Regions from separate parts of the Homo sapiens genome. Here region 1 is reported to be linked to region 2. Evidence: microRNA targets listed by miRTarBase, many of them from high-throughput screens and not tested one by one. Region 2 holds a microRNA gene; the other region holds the end of a gene's coding sequence. Distances are between the middles of the regions.

What was found. The annotated mature microRNA hsa-miR-6808-5p reads CAGGCAGGGAGGUGGGACCAUG and lies in region 2 at 1,538-1,559, shown strand. An mRNA with a match to its seed (bases 2 to 7 or 8) in the 3' UTR can be bound and repressed. Matches are read on the target gene's strand: a 7mer-m8 pairs with bases 2 to 8, a 7mer-A1 pairs with bases 2 to 7 and ends in A, and an 8mer does both.
Region 1: miRTarBase lists SLC2A5 as a target of hsa-miR-6808-5p. Seed matches in the 3' UTR shown: 7mer-m8 at 1,394-1,400.

What each region holds. Positions count from the first base shown.
Region 1 is chr1:9,035,065-9,038,142 of GRCh38, reverse strand. It overlaps SLC2A5 (solute carrier family 2 member 5), which reads left to right. Exons shown (of 12, transcript NM_003039.3): 11 at 119-246; 12 at 354-3,037. The coding sequence ends at 557. Among named protein-coding and RNA genes, the nearest start is that of SLC2A7, 10 kb to the right of the region's middle. RefSeq lists enhancers at 359-438, 879-948.
Region 2 is chr1:1,338,154-1,341,240 of GRCh38, reverse strand. MIR6808 (microRNA 6808) reads left to right here and starts at 1,533; the gene lies at 1,533-1,591. It overlaps DVL1 (dishevelled segment polarity protein 1), which reads left to right. Exons shown (of 15, transcript NM_001330311.2): 6 at 738-831; 7 at 925-994; 8 at 1,064-1,203; 9 at 1,429-1,505; 10 at 1,592-1,659; 11 at 1,802-1,954; 12 at 2,588-2,719; 13 at 2,805-2,972; 14 at 3,058-3,087.

The DNA.
Region 1 (3,078 bases), 7.7 Mb from region 2:
CCAAGAGTCCTGGAGACGCCTCTGTCCTGGGGCCAGCTACCTGGTGGGTCTGCATGGCCAGGCCTGGGATGCTCGGGCCCGCTCTGCCTTCAGGGAGGCTGCTCTCCTCCCCCTACAGGTCCCATACCCGCGCTGCTCATCACTGAGATCTTCCTGCAGTCCTCTCGGCCATCTGCCTTCATGGTGGGGGGCAGTGTGCACTGGCTCTCCAACTTCACCGTGGGCTTGATCTTCCCGTTCATCCAGGTGAGTGGGGCCCGGGGCCCACGCTCACCACCAGATCCCCATGCAGTACAGTGCGAGCCCCTGGGCAAACCACGTCCCACACGTGTCACCTGCCCCTCTTCCCGCAGGAGGGCCTCGGCCCGTACAGCTTCATTGTCTTCGCCGTGATCTGCCTCCTCACCACCATCTACATCTTCTTGATTGTCCCGGAGACCAAGGCCAAGACGTTCATAGAGATCAACCAGATTTTCACCAAGATGAATAAGGTGTCTGAAGTGTACCCGGAAAAGGAGGAACTGAAAGAGCTTCCACCTGTCACTTCGGAACAGTGACTCTGGAGAGGAAGCCAGTGGAGCTGGTCTGCCAGGGGCTTCCCACTTTGGCTTATTTTTCTGACTTCTAGCTGTCTGTGAATATCCAGAAATAAAACAACTCTGATGTGGAATGCAGTCCTCATCTCCAGCCTCCCCACCCCAGTGGGAACTGTGCAAAGGGCTGCCTTGCTGTTCTTGAAGCTGGGCTGTCTCTCTCCATGTTGGCCTGTCACCAGACCCGAGTCAATTAAACAGCTGGTCCTCCACTTTGCTGGTTCAGCCTTCGTGTGGCTCCTGGTAACGTGGCTCCACCTTGATGGGTCAACCTTTGTGTGGCTCCTGGTAACATAACAACAACAGTTACTATAGTGGTGAGATGGAAGGAATCAAATTTTGCCAGAGAAACTAACTTGGTGGCCCCGACAGGTCTTCCGGGGCCATGGGCATTTGTTTAGAGCCAAATTCATCCTCTTACCAGATCCTTTTCCAGAAATACCTGTCTAGGAAGGTGTGATGTCAGAAACAATGACATCCAGAAAGCTGAGGAACAGGTTCCTGTGGAGACACTGAGTCAGAATTCTTCATCCTAAATTATTTTGTTAGTGGAAAATGGAATTGCTTCTGTGTAGTCAATAAAATGAACCTGATCACTTTTCAACAAGACGTGCTGCTGTTCTTTGAGCAAGTAGAAGGCAGGAGGAAGTTCCCTGCTCATTCAGGCAGTGTTTTTTTTGTTTTTATTTTTGCTTTTTTTTTTTTTTTTAAGACGGAGTCTCGCTCTGTCACCCAGGCTGGAGTGCAGTGGTGCGATCTCAGCTCACTGCAAACTCCACCTCCCGGGTTCACACCATTCTCCTGCCTCAGCCTCCTGAGTAGCTGGGACTACAGGCGCCTGCCACCACGCCCGGCTAACTTTTTTGTATTTTTAGTAGAGACTGGGTTTCACTGTGTTGGCCAGGATAGTCTCAATCTCCTGACCTCATGATCCGCCCACCTAGGCCCCTCAAAGTGCTGGGATTACAGGTGTGAGCCACTGCGCCCGGCCACTTCAGGCAGTTTGACTGCACGAGTGTCAGTTCCTTGAGGGCAGGGGCTTGGTCAGTTTTGTTTATGCCTGAATCCCCAGCATCTCGAAGAGGGCCTCTGGAGGCTGAGGTGGGAGGATTGCTTAAGCCTGGGAAGTAGAGGTTGCAGTGAGCTGAAATTGCACCCTATACTCCAGCCTGGGCAACACAGTGAGATCCCATCTCAAAAAAAATTTTTTTAATTGGGCATGGTGACACGCCTTTGGGGTCCCAGCTATTTGGGAGGCTGAAATGGGAGGATCGCTTGAGCCTGGGAGGTCAAGGCTGCCCTGAGTCATGATTGCATCACTGCACACCAGCCTGCATGACAGAATGAGACCTTGTCTCAAATAAATAAATACATGTAAGATTGAGGAAGCTTCCAAATGTCCTCACATATGTAATGAAATCTTGAGGAGTCTTAAAATCTTGAGACTGTGGTGGGGGAGGAAGGGAAAAGGAACAGGGTCTTGATATGGTTTGGCTGTGTCCCCACCCAAATCTCATCTTGAATTGTAGCTCCCATAATTCCCATGTGTTCTGGGAGGGACCCTGTGGGAGATAATTGAATCATGGGGGCAATTTCCCCCATACTGTTCTCATGGTAGTGAATCAGCCTCATGAGATCTGATGGTTCTGTAAGGGGTAAAACCTTTTGCTTGGTTCTCATTCTCTCTTGCCTGCCACCAGGTAAGACGTGCCTTTTGCTTTCTGGCATGATTGTGAGGCCTCCCCAGCCATGTGGAATGGCGAGTCCATTAAATCTCTTTTTCTTTGCAATTTACCCAGTCTCTGATACATCTTTATCAGCAGCATGAAAATGGTCTAACACAGGTCTCTCCCCAAAAATATAGAGAGCTGGAGGTTTTTCTTAGAGATATGAATAAAGGGTGTGAGTGTGAGTGTATGTGCAAAAATATGGATAAAACCTTGAAAGTGCTGAATGGCCTGTAGCAAGAAGTGATGTCTTCTCATAGATGGGTGGCAGAGGCTGGTGGCCGGGAGAGAGAGCAGTGGGACTTGGGAGCACTTTTTGTGGGTATGTAATGGAGATTCCACCAGCAACAAGCTAAACCACTCACAAGCGGGCCCAGAGGAAGTAAACAGAACACTGTGGTTGAACCATCCTTGGCCTTCTGCAGCAAGGATCTGCAGCCTGGAAGGGGCACAGAAACAACCAAAGATGAAGGCTCTCAGAGCTGAGGAGAGGCCAGGTCAGAATATCAGAAGTCAAGAAACTGCAGCACCTCTAACACAGGGGAGGCTATGAAGTTCATGGTTCTGGATGTCTGCTCCCTGGGTTCAAACCTTGGTCCTGCCACATTAGTTGTGCAACTTGGAAAGTTACTTGGCTTTTTTGTATCTCAGTCTTCTCTTCTGTTAAATGGCACTAATAGTAAATGTCTCACATGTCCATTGTGAGAATTAAATGACTTTATATGTTTTTGGTGTTTGGATCAGTGACATGTATTTAG
Region 2 (3,087 bases):
GCGCAGGTGTGTGCATGTGTGCGTGTGCGTGTGTGCAGGTGTGCGTGTGCAGATGTGCGTGTGTGCAGGTGTGCTTGTACAGGTGTATGTGAAGGTGTGCGTGCAGGTGTGCATGTGCAGGCGTGCGTGTGCAGGTGTGTGCAGGTGTGCCTGTGTGCAGGGGTGCGTGTGTGCAGGTGTGCATGTGTGTGCAGGGGTGCGTGTGTGCAGGGGTGCATTGTGCAGGGGTGCGTGTGCAGGTGAGTATGCAGGTGTGCATGTGTGCCTGTGCAGGTGTGTAGTGTGCAGGGGTGCGTGTGTGCAGGTGTGCATGCGTGTGCAGGTGTGCGTGTGTTCATGCGTGCGTGTGCAGGGGTGTGCATGTGTGCCTGTGCGCAGGGGTGCATGTGTGCAGGGTTGCGTGTGTGCAGGTGTGTGTGCAGGTGTGTGCATGTGTGCCTTGTGCAGGGGTGCGTGTGTGCAGGTGTGCATGTGTGTGCAGGTGTGCATGTGTGCAGGTGTGTCAGTAGTGGATCTGGCTACATGTGTCTGTGCCCAGTTTGCCTGTCTCTGGGATTTTCGTGTGTGCTCATATGCATATCACGTGTGCAGGGCCTGGGGCGTGGACGTCAGGCACTGAGCCTGCTTTGGAACAAGCCTGGCCTAGACCCCCGATTCCCACTCAGTATTGGGGGAGCGGGTTCCCACCCCCCTACCCATGTCTCCAGCTCCTCTGAGCTCTGACAGTCTGTTCCCAGGCTCAGCAGCTCCACGGAGCAGAGCACCTCATCCAGACTCATCCGGAAGCACAAACGCCGGCGGAGGAAGCAGCGCCTTCGGCAGGCGGACCGGGTAGGCAGCCGGGTGGAGCAGGGCGGGGCTGGGGAGGCGAAGTCAGTGTCGGGCAGCCCCGTGCCTTTTACACACGCCCCCTCTCCTCCATAGGCCTCCTCCTTCAGCAGCATAACCGACTCCACCATGTCCCTCAACATCGTCACTGTCACGCTCAACATGGGTGAGGCCTCGGGGCGAGGGTTGGGGGCAGGGGCAGGGGCTTGGCCGCGGCTCATGGCTCTTCCTGCAGAAAGACATCACTTTCTGGGCATCAGCATCGTGGGGCAGAGCAACGACCGTGGAGACGGCGGCATCTACATTGGCTCCATCATGAAGGGCGGGGCTGTGGCCGCTGACGGCCGCATCGAGCCCGGCGACATGTTGCTGCAGGTGTGTCTGTGGGGGCTGCGGGGTGACATGTAGCTGCGGGTGGGTCCGTGGGGACTTTGGGGTGACGTGCGGCTGCGGGTGGGTCTGTAGGGGCTGCTGGGGGACATGCGGCTGCGGGTGGGTCTGCGGGGGCTGCTGGGGGACATGCGGCTGTGGGTGGGTCTGCGGGGGCGGTGGACTGAGCTGCACATCCTGCCTGCACCACCCTAATCCCCACCCCTGCAGGTGAATGACGTGAACTTTGAGAACATGAGCAATGACGATGCCGTGCGGGTGCTGCGGGAGATCGTTTCCCAGACGGGGTGAGGGCTGGGGGCGCTGGAGCGGGAGGGGCCAGGCAGGGAGGTGGGACCATGGGGGCCTTGCTGTGTGACCACCGTTCCTGCAGGCCCATCAGCCTCACTGTGGCCAAGTGCTGGGACCCAACGCCCCGAAGCTACTTCACCGTCCCACGGGGTGAGTGGCCCTCGGGGCACACGGGGCGGGATGGGGAGGGGGCGCCTACCTAGCCTGAAGGCCTCTCTCCTCTGTGCCCTGCACCCTGCCCTCCCACCCTGTCCATCTGTCCGCCTGTCATCGCCACGTGGCGGCCACCCAGCTGACCCGGTGCGGCCCATCGACCCCGCCGCCTGGCTGTCCCACACGGCGGCACTGACAGGAGCCCTGCCCCGCTACGGTACGAGTCCCTGCTCCAGCGCCGTCACGCGCACCAGCTCCTCCTCACTAACCAGCTCCGTGCCTGGTGCTCCACGTAAGTGGCAGCTCCTGAGGGCCCCAGCAGAAACCGAGGCTTGGAGGGGGCGTCTCTGCCAGCCTCCAGCATGGCCGCCTGTGGCCGTCATGGGGCTGTGACACGTGTGTGTTGCCTGTCCCCAACTCCCTGCACAGACGTGTGCACAGGCACCCGTGCCCACCTTGTGCAGCCCATCCTGCTCATGGTCTGTGTGTTGGGAACAGGGGATGTACGTAGGGCCCCTATGCGGGGAGCACCCACGGCGTCAGAGGCAGGGGCCAGGTCTCCATTCTGCTTCCTGCCATTAACACGACTAACAGCCTGCGCTCTCGGGTGGGGCATGCGGGGAGGGGAAGGGGCCTGCCCTGTTCTCATTACTTCCTGGTCTGCAGGGTGGGGTGTCAGCCCAGTTTGTGCCTAGGATCCTGATGAAAAGTGTCTGTAGAAGTGGGAGACTAAATGTCCAACCCCCCTGCTCACGCCCCAGCCTCACGGGGGTGCATCCTGCAGTGGGCCGGGGCCCTGCTGTCACGCACCGTCCAGCTTGCGCCCTGGCGCAGGCTCTGCCCAGAGGCTCCCCTGGGGGTGCAGGGCCCTGAGTCCCCCGCCTTCAGATGCTGGGGCTGAAGCGGGGCTGTCTGTGCTTTGCAGAGCTGGAAGAGGCGCCGCTGACGGTGAAGAGTGACATGAGCGCCGTCGTCCGGGTCATGCAGCTGCCAGACTCGGGACTGGAGATCCGCGACCGCATGTGGCTCAAGATCACCATCGCCAATGCCGTCATCGGTGAGTGGCCGTCCCCGCGGGCGGATAGTGCCAGGGGCAGGGCTGCTTGCCTCGAGGCTGCGGGCTGACCGCTGGTGCCGGCCAGGGGCGGACGTGGTGGACTGGCTGTACACACACGTGGAGGGCTTCAAGGAGCGGCGGGAGGCCCGGAAGTACGCCAGCAGCTTGCTGAAGCACGGCTTCCTGCGGCACACGGTCAACAAGATCACCTTCTCCGAGCAGTGCTACTACGTCTTCGGGGATCTCTGCAGCAGTGAGTGGGGGCTTCGGGCTTCAGGGCGGGGGGGAGGGGAACGCCGGAGGCCCCTCCGCGGCCCTCACCTACCCTCCCCCGCCAGATCTCGCCACCCTGAACCTCAACAGTGGCT